Linked DNA regions of Homo sapiens. The protein of the gene in region 5 purifies or fractionates together with the protein of the main gene of each other region. This does not show direct contact. Each region holds a gene or a part of one and is shown on either strand. Other genes may lie near its edges. The genes, in order: SLC2A6, ZNF239, SPECC1L, SLC34A3, SLC30A6, C12orf43 and NUP155.

Region 1 (4,098 bases), on a different chromosome or scaffold from region 5:
CACGAACGCCTGGGGGAGCAATCTCAGACACGTACACCTGCAAGACACAGCCGCCGCACCAGGTTTTGCTGAAAATACTGGTTCCTAGGCCCGGCCGAGATGGGAGAGTCAGCCCCTGTGAACCCCGGAAAGTGGGAAGTGGAGGCTTTCTGGTGGGGCTGAGTCCTGGTCATGACTCACTGCAAGACCTTGGGCGGCCTGCCTGATCTCTCTCTGTCCTCAGTTTCCCTAACTGTGACGTGGGTGGAAGTACGCAGCTCGGAAATGGGCAGCATGACGCTGGGAAGGAGGCCCGAGGGCTCCCAGGCTTCAGGGCTGAGCAGGTGAGTCCATGCCTCCCAGTGAGTTTTGTCTCCTCTGCTGGGCTCACCACCAGGCCCCGTGTGGAGTACCACATAAGATAAGAAGGTCCCGGGGAGGGTGTAGGGCAGGGACTTCCCTCTCCTACCCATTGCTCAATGCGGATTTTCTCCAATTGAGTAATACATCTGACCGGTCAAGAAACGGGGTAGAAGGCTTGGAAAGTCCAGAGTGGGGGCAGCTGGGGACCTGGAGACAATTTCCCCCAAATTAGCTGCCCTGCTGGGGGTGAGCTGAGGCGCCCTGGGCATCCGCAGGGAAGGCAAACAATTCTCATTGCCCAGAAGGCATGGAGGCTGGGAGGCCTTAGTCAGATGGAGGCTCAGCACCAATACAGAGGCATTGGGGCGCCTGGGTGGGAAGGCCTGGCCTTACCGGGATGCAGGCAGCTGTGAGCCCCCCGGCGAAGCCCGTCAGCGTCCTTCCGAGCAGCAGCATCCAGAGGCCGTGCGCACCCGCCATGAGCGCATAGCCGGCCGCCGACGGCACAGCTGAGAACATGATGCTCAGCTTCCGGCCCAGGAGGTCGTTGAGGATCATGGCACTCAGGCCTCCGGCCGCTGCTCCCAGGGTGAACACGGACTGCAGGGGAAGGGGGTGCAGGGCAGATATGTCTGGGCACTTGGCACCCCAATCTCATCAGAGTCCAGGGACAGCTTCTTCCCTAGGCCGACCCCAGGAGCTGGTCAAGCACTTGGCCAAGTCAAGCACTTGAAACAGGGAGCCTCCTGTCTTCAAGGAACAGCCATTTGTTAGGGATGCCCAAACGGGGAATTCTGCTCTAAGGAAGAGGTGCTGCGCCACATATCCACAGTGGTTCTGTCCAGCCTGATGTTTAAATGTCTAATATTTTAATACAGGAGAATTCTGTGACTTGAAGGTACTGGGCTTTAAGATTTGGAGGTTCTTAAGTTCCCTGTACAGCAGCAACTGGGACCCCCTCTGGACTCTGCTAACTGGTAGTGGGACCTGGGCACATTGCCCAGCCTGTCTGCACCTCAGTTTCTTCAGCTGTCTTATGGGGAGAGCGCAAGTTCTACCTCGTGGCGTTGGCCCTGAGAATCAATGAACGTTCAGTGCCCAACACATGCCTGGCACATAGGAAGTGCTCAGTAAACCTTGGGAATTTTTATCTTAACTACTATGTTAACAACTCTACATATGAGGCTATTAAGATTATAATTTTAGACTCTGGGACTCTGGGATCTTCCTCTCCATCAGCCCACAATCTGTCCTGCGGACTCTCCTTGCCCCAGCCAGTGCCTCTCCCCACTGACACCTGATACCCTTGCCCCCATCCAGCCAACTGTGGGTGTGGGGACCCGGGGAAGCCTCAGCCCCACCTAGTATAGACCCTGACAGCCACCTCCCCACCTGCTCCTTCCCTCACCCTCTCCACTGGCTTTCAGTTCCTCATTTCAGAGGAATCCTGTAGCTTTACCCCACCCACTAGTGGCCTGGATGGCTGGGGGAGGGGGGACCAGGGCCCTGGAGGGACCCCCAAGGTGGAGAATTTGGGAGGTTCCTAGCTGGAGATAAGGCTCAGCAGGTCCCTCCTTCCTGCACCCACCCTCCTCCAGAGGATGGTCCTTACCCCAAACCAGGATGCCTGGGATTTGGTCAGATGCAGGTCAGGATCCAAGGAGCGCTCCAGGGCTGGGATGACAGGGGATGTGTAGACCAGGGCATACCCAAAGCTGAAATTGCCGAGCACTGCGGCGAAGGTGGCCAGGAACACCCTTTTGTTCTGCAGGGTCCTGGTGATGGTGGCGGACAAAAAGACCAGGGTCTCTGAGTCCCTCCTCCAGGGACCATTGCCTTTTCTGAACCCAGTGGCTGCCCGGCTCAGCGGGCAGTGCTAGGGAGGCCTGGGTCCAAGGCCATTCACGTTCCCAGGGCCTGAGCCCCAGCTCCCCTGGGAAATTCCCAGGCCATTGTTAGCTCATCCGCAGTGGCTGAGCCTCTGGTGCTGGGGCCTTTTCTCCGGAAGAGGAGGCTCTGGTTCTGCCCCCAGGGCGGCGGCTGGAGGCTTGCTGTGTGACCTCAGGCAGAACCCCTGCTCGCTGGGGCCTCAGTCTCACTGTCTGTGGCAGTGGGGGGCTGGGCCCGGTACTCTCGTGGATCGTTCCTTCCCTTAGGGGGACCAGTTCCTTAAATAGGAGTAGCGTGTCTGGGACAGGAGGGAGCCAGATGGCCCCTCGGTGGCGACTAGGTCAGGGGAGGCCCAGGGCGGGAGCCTGCCGCCGGCTGGAGGGAACCAGGGCCACCCCCAGGCCCCACCCGCAGCCCCCAACCTAGCGACTCTCACCCGACCCGCGCCCTGTCCCCTGGCGACGGGGGCGGCTTCTCGGGGAAGGTGTCGTAGTCCGGGCCCTCGGCTCCCAGCAGCGGCTCCTGCATGGCCGGGTCTCTCTCGGGGCGAGCGGAGGGCGCTCAGACTGGAGCAGCCGCCCGGGGCCAGCAGCTCCGAGGGCACCGGCCAGGCTCCGCCCCTTGGCCGCTATTGGCTGTGGGACGGCCCTGCAGAGACACGCCGGCCAATGGGGCGGCCGCAGGCTGTCCTGATGCTCGGATGCGGACCCGGCTTCCCCGGGCGCGGCCGGCACCGCGTGCGCCCCCGAAGGTCACGCCCCAAGACAGGATGGGGGTCCCAGGGCGGAGCCCCTGCTGGATCGTCCGGGGCCCCCGCGGAGCGCCGGAAGCGGCTCACCCGGCCCGGCTCTTGCAGGCGTGACTGCGGCAATGCGCGCAGCCCCTGTCGTACTCGCTCCCGCGGGGTGGAAACCGAGGCCCAGAGAGGCGAAGCCGAGCGCCAGGGTCACAGCGAATGCGCACCTCGCTCCTCCTTACGCTCTAGCCCTCCCCGTCGCGTGGCGTCTCAGGGCCACCTCTGCCCTGGCTCTCCCTGGCACCAGGGAATCGGGGTGTGTCAGGGCAGCAGCGGATGTGCGGGACGAAGGAGGCAGGAGGGGCCGGCGAGGCGCTGTGGGCAGCTCCAGTGGGCGAGGTCTGTATCCTCCACCCCAGGCTCTGGTGGTAGAAATAACCTGAGCTCGTGACACGTAACCCAGGTAGTAAGATAACATTGAAAAATAAGAAAAGCAGAAATGGAAAATTCCCGGGAAGACCGTCCTCAAAAAATCCCACAGCAGTTCCACCTCTCCCTTTGGGCCTTTTCGGGAAGAGGACGGAATCACGCCCTGCTCTGTTGGATGGACGTGCCACACACGCTTTTAAACGGAGCCTTTGTTGCTGAGTATTTGGGTCATTTCCCATTTTAGCTATTAACATGGTAAAGCATTTTTAAAAGTTAGAATTCCCTTTTATTATGATTGAAATACAACCATAATAGAACAATAAAATCACATCCATCTCCCGTCAGCCTGACCTTGATGGCGTTTTAGCCTCTTCCAGTCTTTTCCTCATGTGCCTATTTTGCATATTTGCTATTGGGGCCCCCATTAAACTGTGCAGCCCCTTTACGTCACCGTTTTCTTGCCATCAAGATCATAGGCTTTGGACTCAGGCACACCCTGGTATGGTGATCAGGCTGCACAGTCCTCGTGGCCATATATATACGTATATACATATATATGTGTATGTATTTTTACATATCTATATGTGTATTTTTTTTTTTTTTTTTGAGACGGAGTCTCGCTCTGTTGGCCAGGCTGGAGTGCAGTGGCACGATCTCAGCTTACTGCAACTTCCACCTCCCGAGTTCAAGCGATTCTCCTG
Region 2 (3,500 bases), on a different chromosome or scaffold from region 5:
TTCATTTGCATTCTTGGAGAATTCCTCAATCTTCCATCTTAGCCATGTGTTCATTTTACTATTTAACTCATCTAGATTGCAGGCGTTTGACTAAAACAGCCTGACACATATCTAGGAAACAAGTGACATAACCTATCATCATCTTCAGTCATTTTATTTAGAATTATTATTTTTCATAGCAATATGTTTATATTTTATTATTAGATTGTGTTTAAATGTGATATCCTCTCCAGTTTTTCTGGGATTTTAATTATGTACCTTTTAAATTCTGTTGGTCTCCTTATATATTTTTTCAAAATTCTTGTGTTCTCAGCATGATATTGGAGTGTGTCCTCAACCCATGCTTGACCCACTTTGGCATGCATATGTGTTTTACTTTAGGGGACACTTCTGCTGATTGGGCTAGGGAGGGAGGTAATAAGAATCCAGATGGTGGATATTATAGGCCTTTTTTTTTTTTTTTTTTTTTTTTTTGACAGTTGGCAGAGCTAGCTGAGGTTTTATTTTGGGAAAAAGAAAAAATTTGAATTGTTTTGTAGCTGGATACATGGGCAAGGGGACTACCCAGGCAGTAAACTGGCCCCACGGATGGGCTAAGGGCTAGGGCTGAGCCTCAGGTGGGCCTCCTATTCCCTGTACTCCCCTGCACAGTGGTGTAGGCCATTTTTTAAGTCCACCTCTTTTGCCACTGAGTTATCTGGGGCATGCCCTGCTTCTTTATTTCCAGCGCTGGGCTATCTTCCTTGTCAGAACTCCCATTAAAAAGTTTAGCTTGAAGTTTTATCCTGGGCACTTATGTTGTCAATTACTTCTTTTTTGTACCTTAATCCATTGGTCATTGTGTACGTTCAACATTACCTCAACCTCTGCTTCTCTCTTCAGTCCAGTTAATATTATTAGCAGTCTTTCTTTGGCAGATCATTTATTTTATTCTTGAGGCTTTATATGAGGGCACTGCTGCTAGCCATCCAATATTTCTATTTCTAAGAGGAAGAGGGTGGGCTGGGAGAGTGCTGCTAACAGCAAAAACTAGCACAGCTGTTAGGAATGCCTAAGTTGAATTAGGAAATGTCTTACTTTATCATTGTTTATTATTTTCTGAGACATAGACTCCAGAGAAATGGGGTCAGTGCTCCCTTACTTTGTAATTATTGATTCTGAGTTTGGTAATTGAATTTCTATGATTTCTTAGGATGTTTTACCCACGAAGAAGCCTTCTGTTATACATAATTTGAGCTGTACATTTTTTTCCCCTAGTTCCTCCATCACTCCTAATCCATCTGCTCCTTATCATTTAGGAGTTCCTCAATGTTTTTATTCTGATGATATCAGCCTTTCTGTTTTCCCAAGAGTATTATGGATTTCTTGTCATTTCAGTGTAATATTAGGCTATTCACTCTAATTGTTTAAGTCTCGGGGAGGGTTTTGTTTTTGTTTTTGTTTTTTAATATACCAGTAAGTCTAAACTCTGTATTCCTAGCACAGTTCTCTCACAGGAGTTCCAGACCTATATATATCTCACAGCTTACGGACCAGTACTGCAAGAATGTTCCACCAACACCACAGATTATACAAGGCAGTTCTGCTGCCTTCCCTACTTCAGCCTCTTCCTGTTGCATTTCCTATCTGATTATATAGCACCACCATACCGTCACTCAGGCAGGAATCCCAAGGAACAGGCTTGGTGCCTCCTTTCTCTTCTAGGTTTAGTTTATCATCACATGATCTAGAATGAATTTCTCCTATTCTCTCCACAACTATCATCCTTACCGTTTTTCTTCTGATTTGCTATGGCAGCCGTCTCGCTACCTAAAGTCTTGCTTTCCAGTGGTGTTTATTGTCACAAAGTCAGTCATTTCACTCTGAATTAAAATTCTTTAATAGTTTTCAATCCCTTCAGGGTTTAGCCCCAAGGTCCTTATTATTAGACACTAAGCCCTTTGCTCTGTCCTCTTACTTCCCCTCCGTGGCACATTCTTCACCACTCTTACTGTTTTTATCTCCTTCGTAAGAAGCCGCTTGTAGTTTTCTTTAACATGTCATATTTTCTCTCCACATTTCACTTCCTTTTTTTTGTTTGTTTTTTGTTTTTCCTGTCATTTTCTCCCAGAAATCTTCCTAAACACCAGGGTCTGAGTTGAGTGTTCCTCTGCTGTGCTTTCGTGGCTGGTTAGGCATACATCTCTTGTACTGTATTGTACTATACATTCATCTACACCACTCACTTAGTATTATCATTATTTGGTGTATTTGTCTTCCCAGGAAGCTTTAGCTTGTTAAGCAAAAGGATTTATATTTTCTTCCTTGTATTCCCCACACCTATGAAAGCAGAATACCAATTAAATGCAAATTTACTTAAAGGAAAGTAGGCCGGGTGTGGTGACTCATGCCTGTAATCCCAGCACTTTGGGAGGCTGACGCGGATGGATCACTTGAGGCCAGGAGTTGGAGGCCAGCCTGGTCAACATGGAAAAACCACACCTCTACTAAAAATACAAAAATTAGCTGGGCATGATGGCATGTGCCTATAATCCCAGCTACTTGGGAGGCTGAGGTGGGAAAATTGCTTGAACCTGGGAGGTGGAGGCTACAGTGAGACCAGATCACACCACGGCACTCCAGCCTGGGCAGCAGAGTGAAACTCTGTCTCAAAAAAAAAAATGAAGTGAGATGAGATGAAATGTTATTGTTAGCAAGGATATAGGACTTACAGCCTTCTATAGGATTAGTTAGGGAAGACTTTCCTTGGCTATGCTTAAAAGCCAAGAGAAAATTTCTGTCTTGTACCCAGATACAAATGTACCTGACCTTAACCCAAAGGACATGACTATAAAGACAAGCTGAACTTTTTCCTAGTTACTAAGACTTCAGGCCTTAGGCACTCTCACTCTGAAATCTTGAAGTCTACCCTTTGTTCTTACCACTGAATTGTCTTTGTTCCCTAGGAGACTTGAATGAAAATTCTGTGGAGAATCTTCAGCAGAAAACACTTCAGGATCTGTTACATGAGCTTTCCTCCTGGCTAGTTTTGGAAGGCATGGCCAGTACAATTACTGGAAGTCAGGATTGTATTGTGAATCATCGAGGGGAAGTGGATGGGGAGCCTGAACTAGATATTTCCCCTTGTCAACAGTGGGGAGAAGCATCTTCTCCTATTTCCAGAAACAGGGACAGTGTGATGACTCTTCAAAGTGGTTGTTTCGAAAACATTGAAAGTGAAACATATTTGCCTTTGAAAGTCTCAAGCCAAATAGACACACAAGACTCTTCAGTGAAGTTCTGTAAGAATGAGCCTCAGGATCATCAGGAAAGCAGACGTCTCTTTGTAATGGAAGAAAGCACTGAGAGAAAAGTGATAAAGGGGGAAAGTTGTTCAGAGAACCTTCAAGTTAAACTGGTGTCTGATGGACAAGAACTGGCCTCGCCATTGTTAAATGGTGAGGCAACTTGCCAGAATGGCCAGTTAAAAGAATCTTTGGATCCCATTGACTGTAACTGCA
Region 3 (2,204 bases), on a different chromosome or scaffold from region 5:
CACTGCCCCACAGACTGGATGCAATGAGGGGCTCACAGGAGGCCCAGCCAGCCCGATTGTGGGCTGAGGGGTCTGCATTCAAGCACGATGTTCTAGAATAGGAGTTTAACGTGTCTACGTAACCTAGAATGTGGTTATTAGGAAAGGGGCTGTGCATGTGGGTGCAGCTGGCGGCACACCTGGTCACCAGATGGCCAGAAGCTGCCCATCAGCCCTGCCCAGATGTCAGCCTGGGAGCTCAGGCTGCTGCCGCTGGCTGGATGCCCTTTGGTGAAATGCCTGTTTTCAGCTAAGAAAGGAGAGGCCAGGCAAGCAAAGTCATGCCACAAAGCATATCAGAGACCCCCGCAGACTCCTGGCCCCGTCCCGCCCCCTGTCTGAGTTGTGTTTTTGTTGCTGTTCCTCTGTTGATGGCCAGCTCTGCTGTTGGCATGAGCCACTGATGTTCATGTGAGAATTACTGTTTTTAAGTGTCTCTCCACTTAGGTGTCCTCAGTTCCCACTTTTGCTCTCATTTGCCTTCACAGAGGCCACTCCACCTGTCCGGATCCAGCTGTCTGGTCATGGTTTGGTTTATTTATTTTGTCCTTCAGGGGCTGTTTTGCCCTAAGAATGAGGGGGCTTCCCCTGGTCTGCAGTTCCCAACTTTATCCCTTGCTGGCCATGCGAGCCCAGCCCTGGTGCCTCATGGGATGGGGGGGTAGGGGTCCCCAGGATCTTCTGGAGGAAGGTGGCCATGGATGGATGGGCTGTATCTGTGTTTTCCCTCTGGGAGTCTCATGGGTCCAGCATCAGGCCTGAGGTCAGCAACAGGGAAAGAGGGTGGGCACGGGGAGGGCTTGGCCCCGCCTATCTAGAGGCTTGCCTCGGGCCCCTCCTTGGGGAAGGTTTGCGTGCAGAGCTGCAAGGGAGAGGGTTCCAGAAGCATTGCCTTTTGCCTCGTCTAATAGGATCCTTAGGACACTGTGGGCTTTAGGAATGACTATAGATGCTCACACGTGTTTAAAGTGACATTTGGAGATGCTCTCAGTCCTGTGGCATCTGGCACGAAGTCTCCAAGAAGCCACTTTGCCTCTTCTCCCTTCAAGCACAAGCTTTACTGCAAAAGGGCCAGTCGCGTTTCTATTTCTCTCGATCCCAGGCTTCTGCGGACCGACGATACGTTTAAATGTTGTTCTAGTAAATATTCTTGAATGTATTAAAATGGCTGAAACAACAAGCTTGGGCTTTTCTAGCTTGCCCTCCACTCCCTGCCGTCCCTCTGACGTCGCATAAACCAGAACCCAGCTCCCTCCTGGGACTGGCTGTGGAGAGAAGGGCACCTCTGAGCCAGCCTGTGGCCCTACCCCAAGGCGCACTTCCTCATGTGGGCAGATCCTGACCAGGAGTCCAGGGTGGCCTCCCCTGGGCCACAGCACATCACCGTGTGGCCTGGGGCTGTGGGACAGTGAGCCCTGTAACCACTAGGGTTCTGTGACAGATGCCAAGACCCCAGAGACCGTGGCAGAGCTACCCCCAGGAGAGCGGAAGCCCCTACACAGCCCAGACACATGCCTTCCCTGGGGGCTGGGGAGTGTGTCTCGAGGGGTTTTGTTTGTTTTGAGGCATGTATCATCTTGGAAATAATTGTCAGGATGTATAAAATAGAGAAAAAGAAAAAAGGTATCCTACCCAGAGGCAACCAGATAAACTTTTTTGCCTGTGCATTGTTTTTTGTTGGTTTTTTCGAGACGGGGTCGATCACGGCTCACCACAGCCTTAACCTCCAGGGCTCCAGCAATCCTCCCACCTCAGCCTCCTGAGTAGCTGGGACCACAGGTGTGTGCCACCATCTCCAGCAGTTTGTTTATTTATTTTTTCTTTTTTTTTTTTTGGTAGAAATGGGCTTTTCGCCATGTTGCCCAAGCTGGTCTTGCACTTCTGGGCTGAAGCAATCCTCTCGCCTTGGCCTCCCAGAGCCTTGGGATTACAGGTGTGAGTCACTACAGTGATTGTGAATGCACTGAGCTGGCCTGGAGAACACTTACCACCTTGTCCACGTCACATGCAAAAGGCCCATGGTGGTGGTGCTTCCTGCACACGAGGGCATGTAGTGAATGCCCTTCCCAGGTGGAGACTCCTCAGGGTTGGGAGCCCAGCAACTGCCTTGGCCCTGAGTAAGCCAGGAGTTGCACTGTGACCTGCAAGTGCTTGGGAGCTGCACC
Region 4 (4,196 bases), on a different chromosome or scaffold from region 5:
TGCCCAGAGCAGGTCTCCCCTCTCCCACAGACGTCCCCGGGGTGTACCGGGAGGGTGGCAAGACTACCTCCTTCCTCCCTGCCCTGCATGGCAGCCCTGTGAATTCACCCACTCAACAAAGCTCATGGAGTTCCCACTGTGTGTCGGGTGCGGTTCTGGGAGGGTCTCGTGTAGGCACGAAGCCATACAGGCATTGAAGGGGATGCCTCGGCGGGGCCTGCCTGAGGCCAACAGAGGGCTGGGGCCTGCTTGAGGTCTCACAGCCCAGTTGGTCTCATCCTTCGCTGAACCTTTCCTGGCTCCGAGCAGCCACCACACAGACCCTTTTGAGGGGCCGGGGCTGGGGCTGGGGCCAGACTGTGGACAGCAGTTACCACCAAGTCAGTGCTGCAACACCCCCACCCCCACTGGAACGAGCTGTCACTCAGGAGCCCCAGGGAAGGACTGCTGCCCCCCACCCCCAGAGCAAGGGCGCAGGAGGGAGACGGAAGAGAATTTGCTGAGCGGACACTCAGAAGCTTCTACCTTCTCCAGGGCAAAGTCCCCATGCACACAGCGGGGGCTGGGCAGCAAGCAAAGCAGGGCACCAGCAGCCCCTGGGCAGGGTGAGCCTCTGGGGGAGCTGCCCCGCACCCCAGGGCAGGAAGAGGCCCAGTCCTCCTAGGGGACACCCCACAGGCGGTGGGGCCAGCTGGGACTCCGCTGGGGAGAACTGTGCGCTGGGCCAGGCAGCGGGTGGGGAAGGTGGCCTGGGGAGCTCTGTCCTCCCCTCTGCAGATGGAGGCTGCCGGCCGCCGTCGCTGGCTATACCAGGGCCGAGCCCGCTAGCAGCCTGCTGGGCCCAACCCTGCCCTGAACCCGGATCTGAACCCTCTGACCTCGGGCTGGGTGCCCTCCCCGGCTACGTGAAAAAGCCCGTCCTCCCCCACCACCTGGTGCAAAGGGCTTCCCTCCCCTGCTCTGCCGAGGGCAGGGATGACCCTGAGAAGGTCTGGGGAGCCCTGAGGTGCATGGAAGTGGGGGACTGGCGTCTCTCGACTCCCGGGCAGCCCCAGCCATACTCTAGCATCCTGCCTGGCTGGGTGGAGTGTGTCTCTTGGGTCACACGGATGCCTGCTGAGGATGCCCAGTACCGAGGGCCGGTGCCCCGCCCCGCAGTGCCCTCGGCCTGATTCAGAGCCCACCCCTGGGAGGAGCCCCACTCCAGGAGGGTTGGGCTGGGGCTTGGAGGTCCTAGCCACAGAGTGACAGGATGGAGACAAGGCCTAGGGGCCTTGGGGCCAGGAGGGTACCCCCGTGAGGGCCTGGGCTCCTGGGTAAACATTAATGGGCTCAGTACCCAGCAGGTCATGTGCGCGATCAGGGGATCTTTGACCTGCAACTGCTCCCGCCCCGTGTCTCCTCCCTGCAGGTGCCCCCTCACCACCCACACAGGTAGGAGCTCCTAGGACCAGGCTGAGGCCCAGGGACAGTGAGGCCGAGGCTGGGTGGCCTCCAGGCCAAGGGCTTGGGCCCCATCCTGAGTCTCCAGGACCCAAGGGCAAGAGACGCCAGGCTTGGGCAGCAGGAGGGAGGGTGAGGCACAGGACGCCTGGACCTGAGCCCAGGGCACTAGGTGGAGGGGTCCAGGTGGGGGGCCCCAGGGGTGGGGTGACCAGGCCCAGGAGGCTAAGGCAGCAGCTTCGGGGCCAGGAGCCTTGAAGTGGTGTGAGGACCCCACCTGCTCCCCATCACCAGGGCGTGGGGCCCTTATCAAGCCGAGACGTCACTGTTTAGTATCAAATGCCAAAGTCTAAGTCGGGACCATCCACAGTGTCCCCGATGACACCAGATAGGGGAGGTCCCCAGGTTCCCCAGCTCATGGCCTGCACCCTCGGCACTAGCCTTCCAGTCAGGACCAGCAAGGGAGCCGGGGAGCTGGAGCCCCTTCGAGTCTACCCCTGAAACTGGACTGGGCTCGCCTGACAACTGCCTGAGGTCATTGTAGCCATCCCCCTGTGGATGGAGAAAGGGGGATGGTCACTGAGGCCTGCAGGGCGTAGAGAGGGAGGGTGGCGGCCAAGGGCTCAATTCAGGGGACCCAGGGGTGTGAATCCAGCTTGTGAGGACAGGGCCGGGGCAGGAGGAAATGTCTCTGACACGCGCGTCCCCCCCAGCAGATCTAGACCTGGGCCTGGGTCTGTCCCTGCCCGAAATCCATGCCGAGTTCCCTTCCCGGCAGCCAGGTCCCCCACCCCACTCTGGACGCGGTTGACCTAGTGGAAAAGACTCTGAGGAATGAAGGTACCAGTGGCCCCTGTGCCCCAGGCCTTCACCAGTCTGACCACCCACCCCCCAGGCACTGGGCAGAGACAGGCCAGGTTTCCTGCGGGCCTCCCGGGGAACCCACAGGGCTCATGACGCCTCCACTCAGGTCCAGCCCAGCTGGAGCCCCATCTTCCCCGTTCCGTTTCTGTCCCTCACTCCAGGCCTCTTACGCCTCAGCCCGTCCTCCGGCCTGTGCCCTTGTGCCCCCAGTTGGAGGGAGGTGGTCCTGGAAACAGCCGTACTCAATTCTACCTCCACAGGGACCTCCAGTTCTGCTCCAGTCTTGGAGGAAGGGGACACAGACCCCTGGACCCTCCCTCAGCTGAAGGACACAAGCCAGCCCTGGAAAGGTGGGTCTGGAGGTTCCGGGGGTGGCAGGCTGGCAGGCCTCTGTCCCCAACGGGACTGGGGAGACAGAGCAGGGTGGGGCCTGCCCAAACAGGCTGTGTGTGGGGAACTCCGCCATGCAGGCCCCCTCTGGGGAGACACGTGTCCCTCAACCGGGTGTCTGTGCTGTCCTGGGGCAGACCGGCCACCTCTGCCCATCCGTCCCTCCCCTCCTGCTCCTGCGAGGGAGGGTCCCAAGGGCTTCTGGCTTGGAAAGGCAGGAACCCGGGCCCTGCCCTGGGGGTTACGGAAGAGGAGGAAATGGGACCCAGCCCTGTTGGAGACAGAGGAGAGAGGGGGCAGAGAATGAGGGGCCTGGGAGGGAGACCTGTCAGGGTGGAGGGCCAGCCAGGGACAGCCTGCCCTGTGTCCTCAGAGCTCCGCGTGGCCGGCAGGCTGCGCCGCGTGGCCGGCAGCGTCCTCAAGGCCTGCGGGCTCCTCGGCAGCCTGTACTTCTTCATCTGCTCTCTGGACGTCCTCAGCTCCGCCTTCCAGCTGCTGGGCAGTGAGTGACGGGACGGGTGCCCAGGGCGGGGCGGGCAACCAGCCCTCCGCAGCTTCAGCGCACCTCTCTTGCCGGTGTAGGCAAAGTGGCCGGAGACATCTTCAAGGACAACGTGGTGCTGTCCAACCCTGTGGCTGGACTGGTCATTGGCGTGCTGGTCACAGCCCTGGTGCAGAGTTCCAGCACGTCCTCCTCCATCGTGGTCAGCATGGTGGCTGCTAAGCGTGGGTGCACACTCCCTCCCCGGGTGGTGGGGGGGGCAGGGTGGGCCGCAGGCTGACTCAGCCCCCCCACCAGCAGTGCTGACTGTCCGGGTGTCTGTGCCCATCATCATGGGTGTCAACGTAGGCACATCCATCACCAGCACCCTGGTCTCAATGGCGCAGTCAGGGGACCGGGATGAATTTCAGAGGTGAGTTGTGGGTGGAAGGGCTGGGCTGGGGCTGCAGTGGCAGCCCCAGCCCGGGCCCCCCCACCTGACCCTGCCCACTCTCTGCGGCCACAGGGCTTTCAGCGGCTCGGCGGTGCACGGGATCTTCAACTGGCTCACAGTGCTGGTCCTGCTGCCACTGGAGAGCGCCACGGCCCTGCTGGAGAGGCTAAGTGAGCTAGCCCTGGGTGCCGCCAGCCTGACACCCAGGGCGCAGGCGCCCGACATCCTCAAGGTGCTGACGAAGCCGCTCACACACCTCATCGTGCAGGTGAGGACGGCCACCGCCCCCGCCCAGAGAGCCTGAGCAGGCCGGATGGGAGGAGGGGAGGCCCGCCCTGCCCTGATGGAGGGTCAGCGGAGGGTCTGGGCCCTGTCCTGGGACAGGGGAGGAGAGGGCAGCAGTGGGCAGGGCTGGGCTGGACCCCGCGGGCGCCAGAGCCCCGGGTGAGTCCTGAGAGAGGGTGCAGCACACCGTCACGACCCCTCTGGCCCCCAGTTGGACTCCGACATGATCATGAGCAGTGCCACAGGCAACGCCACTAACAGCAGTCTCATTAAGCACTG
Region 5 (3,500 bases):
GTCTTGAACTCCTGACCTCAGGTGATCCACCTGCCTCGGCCTCCCAAAGTGCTGGGATTACAGGTGTGAGCCACCATGCCCAGCAGTTCTTTATACTTTTAAGCAGAGCTTCCTAACTAGTGTGCTGAGAACGGGCCATAGGTACAGGCTGAGGATCCCAAATCTGAAAACCAAAAATCCACAACTTTGAGCACCAACATGATACTCAAAGGAAATGCTCATAGGAGCGTTTCGAATTTTAAATTTTCAGGTTTGGGATGCTCAACCCATACATATAATGCAAACACTCCGAAATCTAAGACAATCTAAAATGTGAAACACTTCTGGCCCCAAGCATTTCAGATAAGGGATATTCAAACTACATACAAATTAATTCCCTCAACTCTCAAAAAAGCCAGGTGAGAACCTGGGTACCTACCTGGCTAGAATTAAATAGGTTATTCTATGTAAAGTATTTAGCAGTGCTTGGCATATAGAAAGTACTTAATATTATTTCCCACTCAAATTTCAAGTAATTTCACAAATCTTTTTTCTTTTTTTTTTGTTTTGAGATGGAGTTTCACTTTTGTCACCCAGGCAGGAGTGCAATGACGTGATCTCGGCTCACTGCAACCTCCGCCTACCGGGTTCAAGGGATTCTCCTGCCTCAGCCTCCCAAGTAGCTGGGATCACAGGCGCCTGCCACCATGCCCGGCTAATTTTTATAATTTTTTAGTAGAGACAGGGTTTTGCCATGTTGGCCAGGCCGGTCTCAAACTGCTGACCTTGTGATCCGCCTGACTTGGTCTCCCAAACTGCTGGGATTACAGGTGTGAGCCACCAGACCCAGCCTTCATTTTTTTTTAAAGCCAGAGTCTTGCTATGTTTCCCAGGCTGAACTCAAACTCCTGAACTCAAGCAATACAACCACCTCAGCCTCCTGAGTAGCTGGGACTAGAGGCACATGCTACCAAGCCCAGCTAATGTCACAAATCTTGATGTTTCTGGGAACCTCCATTTCCAGCTAATGAAAATATAAAGTAGGCTGGGAGCAGTGGCTCACGCCTGTCGTCCCAGCACTTTGGGAGGCTGATGTGAGAGGACTGCTTGAGCCCAGGAGTTTGAGACCAGCCTGGGTAACACAGGTAGACTTTGTCTCTATTAAAAAATAAATAAATAAATAAATATAATATAATATAATAAAAATATAAACTAGATAACTTTTCTGGAAATAAATTTGGCAATATACAACAAAGCCTTTGAAAAATACTGTATTTTTAATCCAGTAAATAATTCCTTCTCGGGGAATTTATCCTACAGAAAGAATAAAAAATGCAGACGAAGTTGATCTAAAGAGGCTGATTATAGAGTTATTTATAAAAGGAAAAGTTAGAAATGTATAAAATATTTTAAAATATTCATAACAATATTATGCAAACATTAAAAAATCATTTACATTCAAAGAGTATTTAATGAGAAGCAATACTGAAGACATAATGCTAATCAAAAAGCCAGACATGGCCGGACGCAGTGGCTCACACCTGTAATCCCGGCACTTTGGGAGGCCAAGGTGGACAGATCACCTGAGGTCAGGAGTGAGACCAGCCTGGCCAACATGGGGAAACCCCGTCTCTGCTAAAAATACAAAAATCAGCCAGGCATGGTGGCACATTCCTGTAACCCCTTGAACCAAGGAGGCAGAGGTTGCAGTGAGCCAAGATTGCGCCACTGCACTCCAGCCTGGGCAAGAGAGTGAGACTCCGTTTCAAAAAAAAAAAAAAAAAAGCCAGGCATAAAACTGTAATATATACAATTCTAAGTAAGCACATAAAATTATATGTACGTGTGCATACAAAAAAGTGGAAGGAATAACATAGAAATGTTAACATATTATCTGTGGGTCATAAGATTATCAGTAGTCTTATTTCCTTCTTGTATCTCCCTGATCTTTACAGGGAAACAGTGTTTCTAAATCTTTGCACCATCTTAAAAATTTCTAGAGTAAGTGTTATAGTATTTTATAAATTATGAATTTTTTTCAAGAAATTCTAGTGATCTTAATTATCATTATTTAATTTTCTAATTCATGCAGTACTTCTTTAACTCATACAAACACAATTTATCTTCATAACATTCATGAAGTTGTTTAAACTTGAATGGGCATTTCAGAAAACTTTCTTCTCTTGACTATCCTAGAGTGAGATCTAAAAAGATCCACACCTATCTGTGCTTCTCTATACTTCAAAGTGTGGGTCTGTGCACACATCCCACTTCTATTTTCACCTCACTTCTCCATCTCTTAGTGGCTAACTCTTTTGTGGGTTAGTGGGATTCCAAAACACTGAAATTATTGAAAAAAGAAAATAATTTAGACTGCAAAAGTGAAAAATCAGTCTGAAGTTGTAAATACTTCAAAATAAAAGAATATTTCCAAAGAAATAAAGTTTGGCTACTTGCAAACATATATGCCCATCCACCATTGCCAAAGAGAAGTTCCTGGGAACTTACTTTATTAACAGAATACAATTATTTTCAATTAGCATATCAACTAAGAATTCTAAGTATACTGATACTTCTAAAATGCTTACAATAGACTTTTCTTAGATAGATTACACATTTAGAATCTCACATTATTTGGTAAATGTAATTTTTCATCACCACATGATTTAATTTACAGGTCACTCCTGCCTGTTTTAAAATAATTTGTTATTTTAAAGCTTGAACTAATGAGATTTTGTTTTATAATTTTCCACTTAAAAAAGACTTGAGAACATTTGGGCTAGTTCTCTCTTGTCTTCAGAATATACTTCTTCATTGATCTGAGTGAACGAAACAAACAAAAGGCTTGTTTTTATGAGAGATTAGTTGGATTTTTAAATTAATAGTAAATAAAAAACATACCTTCTGAGACATAAGCAAAAGGTTTATTCCGAATAGAAAGCATCGTGAACAGGTTGAAACAAAGAGCCACAAAAGTACCAACTAATAATCTTCCCCTAAAAAGAACAACGATAACATTCACCTTTAATTTGTTCTTGGTATTATCAGTATGTAATTTCAATACGTAGAGGGACTAAGAGGTGGGAAGGTAAAGTGGTCTGCTTTAATGATTTGGTGTTTCCAGATACAGAATCTGAACTTAGTTACTAGCCCCATCACCCATGTCCCATCTACTGTTGCTCCATCTTACAAAGGATAAGTAAGGACTTTTAGCATTAACAGTATCTTGCTACAGGTAAACGCTGTTATAAATCTGTATAAATATCAATGGTATTTGTTTTACGATATACTGGACAAGTCAGACTTTGTGGAATTAAACTGATCAGAATAGATAAGGTCCATATAGTTGGCAGCTCTGTGGTTGAGAAATACAATTGTTTTTTCATATATATGATACATACAATTCTCTTTTCATATATATATGAAAATCACATAGTTGCAATATATATGAAACATATATACGTTTCTTTTTTTTGGAGACAGGGTCTCACTCTGTTGTCCAGGTTGGTCTTGAACTCCTG
Region 6 (3,251 bases), on a different chromosome or scaffold from region 5:
TCACATACCCCATCCCCTCCACTTGAAAAAGAATTTTGTTTTTGTCGTTATCCAAAAATCTCATCTTAAATCAACCGTCTCGTCTCCCTGTAGCTTCATTACCATCTCAGAAGCAGCAAAGGAGCCAGCAAAAGCTAAGGTACAGAAAGTCGCTTTGGAGGATGATGGTGAGTGGTTATACTTAATAGAAGCTATCATTTATTAAGCACCTAATGTGTGTCTGGAGGTGGGCGAAACAGTTTTGGTATATTCTTTTTTTTTTTTCTTTTTTTGAGATAGGAACTCTCTCTGCCACCTAGGCTGGAGTGCAGTGGAGCAATTATAGCTCAATGCAGCCTCAACCTCCCGGACCCAAGCAGTCCTCCCACCTCAGCTTCCTGAGTAGCTGGGACCACAGACACACACCACCACCCCTGGCTAATTATTTATGTTTTTTAGAGACAGGATCTCGCTATGTTGCCCAGGCTGGTCTTGAACTCCTGGCCTCAAGCCATCTGCCCACCTTAGCCTTCCAAAGTTCTGGGACTACAGGCGTGCACCACCACACCTGGCTAATTTTTGTATTTTTTTTTAGAGACAGGGTTCTGTCATGTTGCCCAGGCTGGTCTTAAACTCCTGGCCTCAAGCTATCCTCCCGCCTCAGACTACCAAAGTACTGGGGTTACAGGCATGGGCCACCTCACCATTCTTTCATCTGCTCAGCCCCTGTGGTGAGGCAGGTATTATGATTGAACCCCATGTACAGACAAGGAGACTGAGGCCCTGAGAAACGAAGTCATTTGCCTGAGGCGGCCTCGTCTGTGTCACCCTGAGCAGGAGCACTTTACTGCTGCCCTCCACAGCCTCGCCCATCTGCGTCTGTCCTGTACCAACACATTTGCCACTTTGAAGGCTGCCTTAGGTCAGGAGCTCAAGTGCTGACTTCCAGAAGCCTCTGAGGGCTTGCTGAGCTGATGTGGCTGCTGGCTCCTGCTCCAGCGCGCCCTCCACTGGCTCCATCAGGCATCAGCATGACCCTTGGCAGATGCAGAATCACTTTGTAGTTAGACGACTGATTCCTGGGTCTTTGCCTCTGGACCAGGAGCTCCTGAGGGCAGAGGCGGGGCAGCTTCAGCACCTGGCACCTGGGAGGAGGGGCTGGCATCTGGGGGTGCTGACTCTGCTCCTTTGTTTTTTTTGTTTGTTTGCTTGGTTGGGTTTTTTTGTTATTGTTTCTTTTTTAAATTTTTTTATTTTGTGTCTTCTTAAAATTTTTTTTTTGTTTCTCTTTATCTTTTCTTTCTTTCGTTTTCCTTTTTAAAATTTTTTTCTTTTTTGTTTCTTTATTTTTTATTTTTTTATGTTTCTTTTTGTTTTGTTTTGTTTTTGTTTGACTCTGCCCCATTGAATCTTAGGTTTCCGCCTTTTCTTCACATCTGTCCCTGGAGGCCGTGAGAAGGAAGAGTCTCCCCAACCCCGCCGAAAGCGACAGCCCTCCAGCTCCAGGTGAGAACTCACACCTCTCCTCACGTCCCCTCCTTTTTTCTCCTCTTCTGTCTTGGTGGGTTCCCTGGAATAGCCAAGCAGACTCCAGTCAGGACCAGGCCAAGGCAGTGGCCCTGTCAGGCAGCTGGAGAAATCATGAGCTCAGCGGGAGGGAAAGCCCTCTTGGCGGCAGCTTTGGATGTTTACTGCTTTTGAGCACCTGTCTTGGGCCAGACACCTCACTTGATCATAGTTGCCTCCTGGGACATCCCTGGGAGGCCTGGACTCTGTTAAGATCCCCGTTTTAGAGATGATACAGTCAGAGAGGTTAAGTCACTTAAGGAGGTCACAAGGCTGCTACGCCCAGAAGCCAGTATTGGAAGCCAGGTTGGCCTCACTCCCAAGCCTGAACTCACTACCTGCCTCTCTCTGCGGCCACCTTCTGGTGACCTGGACCAAGGGAGGACAGCGAGAGGCAGCTCTGGGGCTGTGTCCTGACTCCAGCTAACCCAGGGTACCCTCTCGTTGCAGCAGTGAGGACAGTGACGAGGAGTGGCGGCGGTGCCGGGAGGCAGCTGTGTCGGCGTCCGACATCCTACAGGAGTCAGCCATCCACAGCCCTGGAACAGTGGAGAAGGAGGCAAAGAAGAAAAGGAAGTTGAAAAAGAAAGCCAAGAAGGTGGCCAGTGTCGACTCGGCTGTCGCTGCCACCACCCCCACCAGCATGGCCACAGTCCAGAAGCAGAAGTCAGGTGAGCTCAACGGGGACCAGGTGTCGCTTGGGACCAAAAAGAAGAAAAAGGCAAAGAAGGCCAGCGAGACCTCTCCATTCCCACCAGCAAAGAGTGCTACAGCTATACCTGCAAACTGAACCCAGCCATGGGCACAGGGCTCAGCCAGCTCCAAGGACAAGGTGTCCCCCCCACCCTGGGGACAAGGCATTTCCAAGCCCCACCTCCCTCTCCAAGTTCAAGGACTGGGCTGGCAAACCCAGACTGCCCATGAGACCCTGATGGTGATGAAGGCTTGCTCGAGAGTTGGGCCAAAAAAGTGGCTGTAGGGTGAGAAGACCAATCAAGGCCTGCCCCTCTGTGCTCCCACGGAGGGCTGGCGGGGGCGCTGTGGTTCCAGAACATTTCATGACCTCAGGAAAAAAGGAACCTTCCAGTTATTTGAGACTAGTGGCCAAGTGGTGAAACCTCCATCTCCCTAGAACTGTCTGAGGTGGGCAGGGGAAGGGAGACCTTCCCCACCACCTCCTTAGCCTGGTGTGAGAAACAGTTTTTAGAAAATGAGAGAAGGGATCCCCAAGAGGCCAAGGCCCAGAGAAACTTTTGTTCTTCTCTCCTTAGCCCACATAGACTTCACAGAATCGTCTGAGAAAGGAGAGCTTTTTCACCCCTGGCTTTCTAGAATTTTCTTTGTCTGCATTTGTGAATATACCACACATGATGGTGTCTCTGAGCCGACCAGATTATGGAAACTCAATTGTCAGAGGACCCAAAACAAAACTTAGAGTGATTTGGATATTGCCTCTCTGTCAATGCTGAACCTTAAGACATTTTAAGTAAACATCCTCCTCCTCTCTACACCCCCAGGATTTGTGCGTTCACCCCACCCAAGACTTCAGGAAGTGTCATAGCACTCGTGGACTAGGTTTCATGGGACAAAGGCATTCTGCAAGAAGTAGAAGCTTGTGGCCGGGTGCAGTGGCTCATGCCTGTAATCCAAGCATTTTGAGAGGCCAAGGAGGTGGATCAATTGAGGCCAGGAGTTTGAGACCAGCC
Region 7 (4,060 bases), on a different chromosome or scaffold from region 5:
CCTCCCCGTCTCAAGTTATCCTCCCACCTCAGCCTCCCAAGTAGCTGGGGGTCCAAGTGTGTGTCACCATGCCAAGCTAATTTTTGTATTATTGTATTTCTTTTCTTTAAGAGGCTGGGTTTTGCCATATTGCCAAGACTGGTCTCAAACTTCTGGGCTCAAGTAATCTGCCCACTTTGGCCTCCCAAAGTGCTGAGACTATTGGGCTGAATTCATATTAAAGCAAATCCAGGCTGGGCACAGTGGGTGACACCTGTAATCCCAACACTTTGGGAGGCCGAGGCGGGCGGATCACATGAGGTCAGGAGATCAAGACCAACCTGGCCAACACGGTGAAACCCTGTCTCTACTAAAAATAGAAAAATGAGCCAGTGGCGAACACCTATGATCCCAGCTACTCAGGAGGCTGAGGCAGGAGCATCGCTTGAACCTGGGAGGTGGAGGCCGTAGTGAGCCAAGATTATGCCAACTGCACTCCAGGCTGGGTGACAGTAAGACTCTGTCTCAAAAAATAAATAAATAAAGCAAATCCAGACATCCCATTTAATCCTAAAACATAACTTTAATAGGCCGAAGGTGGCAGATCACCATGTTAAATGGCAGTGGGAACACAGAGGGAGGAATCGATAACTTTAGTGAGGATGGGAATGCTACGAAAGACTTCAGGCCAGGAGTGTGACTTACATCTGTAATCTCAGCACTTTGGAAGGCTGAGGTAGGAGGACTGCTTGATGCCAGGAATTTGAGACCAGCCTTGTAACAGAGTGAGACTACGTCTCTACATAAAAATTAAAAATTAGCTGGGTGTGGTGGCAGGCGCCTGTAGTCCCAGCTACTGGGGAGGGCAAGGCGGGAGGACCACTTGAGCTCATGAGTTAGAGGCTGCAATGAGCTGTGATCATGCCACTGCACTCCAGCCTGGTAACAGAACTAGACCTTGACTCAAAAAAAAAGAACAAGAAAAAGAAAGACAACAAAGAGAAACTAAGGACTTTCACAGGGAGTCTGGAAAAAGTTTGTCAGGCAAAAAAAGAACATTGCAGAAACAATAAAAGTAAGATAAAATCCTGAGGAAATCCTGAAGATGGGGCTTCTTACGGAAAATATGCTAAATTCTCTGTAATCAGAGCAACGGATGAAAAATTGGATGGAAAAGAAGGGGAAGAGACTGGGTGAAAGAGGAAGGTGTGTGTAAAGGCATGAGATATGTAAGAGAAGGACCAGAATGCATGCACTGTTTTTATATCTTGTTTTCACACCTAAGGAGGCCAAAATGAGTAATGTTGTTCAAGATGATAATTGCTAATAGGCCAATCAGGTATTATAAGACACGCTCATTGGTAAGTAGCTGTAGGGAGCAAATACTATCTTTGTTTCTATCATTTCTTTGATTACAAAGCTATCAATGATTTTTATAAATAATCAGAAGTGTTCTCGGTTTACACTGCACAAATTATCCTATTTAGATTACTTTGGTTCTTGCTCACCAACAATCTTTTCTTTCTTACACTTCGCTGGTTTTCTCCAAATTCCATCTCACAAAGGGGTCACTTTTTCTAGCAACTGATGTAATTCCATAAGCCGTGGGGAGCTGGTTATAACTTAAAACTGTTAAACAAATTACTTTCCAGTCACCTATATTGTCAACACATATTCTGCCTTACTCTCCCTGTACATAAGCACTGTGATTTCCCTGTTCTCTTTCTTTATTCCACTGGTAGTTCTTTTAAGATCCTCCAGCATTTCATAACACACATCTCTACACATAATAAAGCGTTTCTTGGCCGGGTGCAGTGGCTTGCGCCTGTAATCCCAGCACTTTGGGAGGCCGAGGCGGGCGGATCACTTGAGGTCAGAGTTCGTGACCAGCCAGGCCAATATGGTGAAACCCCGTCTCTACTTAAAAAACACAAAAATTAGCCGGGCTTGGTGGCAGGCGCCTGTAATCTCAGCTACTTGGGAGTCTGAGGCAGAAGAATCGCTTGAACCCAGGAGGCGGAGGTTGCAATGAGCCGAGATCGCGCCATTGCACTTCAGCCTGGGCGAAGAGGGAACCGCTCCGTCTCAATAAATAAACAAATAAATATAAAGCAAAGCGTATCTTTAAGATAACATGCTAAATTTCCAAATTAACTTCGTTTGCTCTTACGATCTACTCAAACACTAACAGGAGAAATGAACAAATTTGGGACTTGGATCTGGAGATGCTTCTCATATGGCCTTAGCCATAAGCACTTGAGAGCGGCGAGAAGCTCATTAAGGTTGAGGTCTTTGCCTCTTTCTGCTTCAACTGGGAGCTTGCTCTTCACTCTTGCCCTCTCAAGTATCTACAATGAAGAAAGTGAGGAAAGGAAAAAACCTGAAAAGAAGCTGCTTGCTGTTCTCCAAAAATGCAGCCAACAGTGCCATAAATCTCAGCATATCCTCGCCGGGACCAACGCTGGGGATAAGTAGCAAATTAGGAAGTCAGGCGAGAGTCCTTTAGGTTGAGAAAGCAGGGTCACTATCACTCACTTGGGGCAGACACCATAAGCAGCTCGGAAAGGTCCGGGTACATGCGGTCCTCTTGCAACTGACGGTCGATGAGCCGTCCAGCATTTTCCAGAGCTTCCTGCAGGGCTGCGGCAGATGTAGAGGCCGGCATCGCCGCGCCCAACAAAGAAGACGGCATCTCGGAAATCGTAGACACCAGGGTCCAGAAAAAGTCAAAAACCAAGGAGAAACAAGAAAAGATCCAAGAAGTTAGCTTAGATCCGCCGCCTAGGGCGCGCGCGCCAAACGAGCGCCTTGGCGCCTCGACATGACGCACTTCCGCTTCATCCGGTGGGGAACTGGAAGACGCCGTTCTGGCCTGGGAAGAGGAAGCTGTTGGGAGGGGGCTAGAGGTTGTGGGTGGAGCTAGGAGGCTGCTGATGCTTTCGAGGGGGTTGAGGGTTTTGGGGTGTGGCAGGGTAAAATTAGGGTAGGTTATTTAGGGAAGGGAGGGAGGGAAAGGAAGGGAAGGATAAAGGGGAGGGAACAGGGAAGGAGAGGGGCGGGATGGGGTTGGATAGGGTGAGGAGGAAGGAGGGAGGAGGGATACGGTAGGTGGGAGCTAGGTCGTGTGTCTGGCCTAGGAGGTTGGTCAGGTTCCGTTGGTTTAAGCGCGTGCTCGACCTGAGTCTTGGAACTTCCCGCGTCGGTATCCGCTAACTGCAGCTATATGAGTTCGCGCATGAGCGCGCAGTTTGGTTCTCCAAGTAACTGCTTTTGTGAGAGTAGTTAAGAATTGGTAGGTCGCTGTCACAGAGAGGGATATAAACCAGTATCTCACTATATTCTTCGCGGGCTTCAGTGTAAATTAGAATTCATCAGGCTTTTCCATTTGCGTGTCGCTGTCTTTTGACTTTGTTGCCCCTTAGTATAAAATACGTGTTTAAGAAGAAGCTGAGTGCAGGTGGACCGCTGCCGTGCTTTTTATCGTGGCAGAGATAGCAGACAGTTCTAATTCATCTTTCCATTCCCAGCGCTAGTATAGGAACTCGTATGAGATAGGAACCCAAGAGTTCATACAATCCTAAGAAACTGAATACTTGCCTTGTGCCTGGTGCTGGGACTATCAAACTAACACAGTGTTTCCTGTCCTTAAGGTGCTTCAAGCAGAGACAAAGGGCTTCATTATAATTTTTCTATTTGGATAGGTATAAACTATAGCAGGATAGGAGAAAGCAGAGAGGTAAAAGAGGCTTCATTTACTACAGAAGGCAACCTGAGTGGGTAAATCAAAGCACTTTTTAGAAAGCTGCTCTTATTTAGAATCTCACCTAAGAAAGCTTCCAGTTATGTTCTTCAGAATTTCACAAATCAATAACTGAATTACTCTAAATTGGTCTTTTGCTATTTGAATTACATTTTTACTCCCTCAAAGACTTGACTACATTTCTGAAAATTGAAAGTTCTTTGATGTTACCAATCTACACTTAAAATTTGACATAGCCAATATACCAAGAAAAACTGGATTTTTTATCATTGGTATATAGATAGGCAGTTGGGTCTCTAGCTGTGAGTTTACTTTATTTGG

Evidence for each region.
Region 1: the proteins of SLC30A6 (region 5) and SLC2A6 purify together in Homo sapiens (affinity purification with mass spectrometry; one large-scale study listed by BioGRID and IntAct). This does not show direct contact.
Region 2: the proteins of SLC30A6 (region 5) and ZNF239 purify together in Homo sapiens (affinity purification with mass spectrometry; one large-scale study listed by BioGRID and IntAct). This does not show direct contact.
Region 3: the proteins of SLC30A6 (region 5) and SPECC1L purify together in Homo sapiens (affinity purification with mass spectrometry; 2 studies listed by BioGRID and IntAct, with this or other methods). This does not show direct contact.
Region 4: the proteins of SLC30A6 (region 5) and SLC34A3 purify together in Homo sapiens (affinity purification with mass spectrometry; one large-scale study listed by BioGRID and IntAct). This does not show direct contact.
Region 6: the proteins of SLC30A6 (region 5) and C12orf43 purify together in Homo sapiens (affinity purification with mass spectrometry; 2 studies listed by BioGRID and IntAct, with this or other methods). This does not show direct contact.
Region 7: the proteins of SLC30A6 (region 5) and NUP155 purify together in Homo sapiens (affinity purification with mass spectrometry; one large-scale study listed by BioGRID and IntAct). This does not show direct contact.

The regions. Positions count from the first base shown.
Region 1 is NC_000009.12:133,476,300-133,480,397, forward strand, and holds the start of SLC2A6 (solute carrier family 2, facilitated glucose transporter member 6), read right to left. Parts: upstream 2,801-4,098; 5' UTR 2,761-2,800; coding exon 2,669-2,760; intron 2,118-2,668; coding exon 1,955-2,117; intron 943-1,954; coding exon 736-942; intron 124-735; exon of another isoform or gene 38-123; coding exon 1-37. UniProt on the Homo sapiens protein: Probable sugar transporter that acts as a regulator of glycolysis in macrophages. Does not transport glucose.
Region 2 is NC_000010.11:43,557,617-43,561,116, reverse strand, and holds part of ZNF239 (zinc finger protein 239), read left to right. Parts: intron 1-2,945; coding exon of another isoform or gene 2,946-3,037; coding exon 3,038-3,500. UniProt on the Homo sapiens protein: May be involved in transcriptional regulation.
Region 3 is NC_000022.11:24,416,035-24,418,238, forward strand, and holds the end of SPECC1L (cytospin-A), read left to right. Parts: 3' UTR 1-1,704; downstream 1,705-2,204. UniProt on the Homo sapiens protein: Involved in cytokinesis and spindle organization. May play a role in actin cytoskeleton organization and microtubule stabilization and hence required for proper cell adhesion and migration.
Region 4 is NC_000009.12:137,229,505-137,233,700, forward strand, and holds the start of SLC34A3 (sodium-dependent phosphate transport protein 2C), read left to right. Parts: upstream 1-1,396; 5' UTR 1,397-1,434; exon of another isoform or gene 1,435-1,575; intron 1,576-1,698; exon of another isoform or gene 1,699-2,159; 5' UTR 2,160-2,198; coding exon 2,199-2,283; intron 2,284-2,468; coding exon of another isoform or gene 2,469-2,567; coding exon 2,568-2,657; intron 2,658-3,070; coding exon 3,071-3,199; intron 3,200-3,279; coding exon 3,280-3,423; intron 3,424-3,499; coding exon 3,500-3,611; intron 3,612-3,704; coding exon 3,705-3,900; intron 3,901-4,128; coding exon 4,129-4,196. UniProt on the Homo sapiens protein: Involved in actively transporting phosphate into cells via Na(+) cotransport in the renal brush border membrane. The cotransport has a Na(+):Pi stoichiometry of 2:1 and is electroneutral.
Region 5 is NC_000002.12:32,193,364-32,196,863, reverse strand, and holds part of SLC30A6 (zinc transporter 6), read right to left. Parts: intron 2,976-3,500; coding exon 2,881-2,975; intron 1-2,880. UniProt on the Homo sapiens protein: Has probably no intrinsic transporter activity but together with SLC30A5 forms a functional zinc ion:proton antiporter heterodimer, mediating zinc entry into the lumen of organelles along the secretory pathway.
Region 6 is NC_000012.12:121,003,237-121,006,487, reverse strand, and holds part of C12orf43 (protein CUSTOS), read left to right. Parts: intron 1-93; coding exon 94-167; intron 168-1,394; coding exon 1,395-1,485; intron 1,486-1,995; coding exon of another isoform or gene 1,996-1,998; coding exon 1,999-2,335; 3' UTR 2,336-3,251. UniProt on the Homo sapiens protein: Plays a role in the regulation of Wnt signaling pathway during early development.
Region 7 is NC_000005.10:37,368,307-37,372,366, forward strand, and holds the start of NUP155 (nuclear pore complex protein Nup155), read right to left. Parts: upstream 2,801-4,060; 5' UTR 2,672-2,800; coding exon 2,515-2,671; exon of another isoform or gene 2,360-2,514; intron 1-2,359.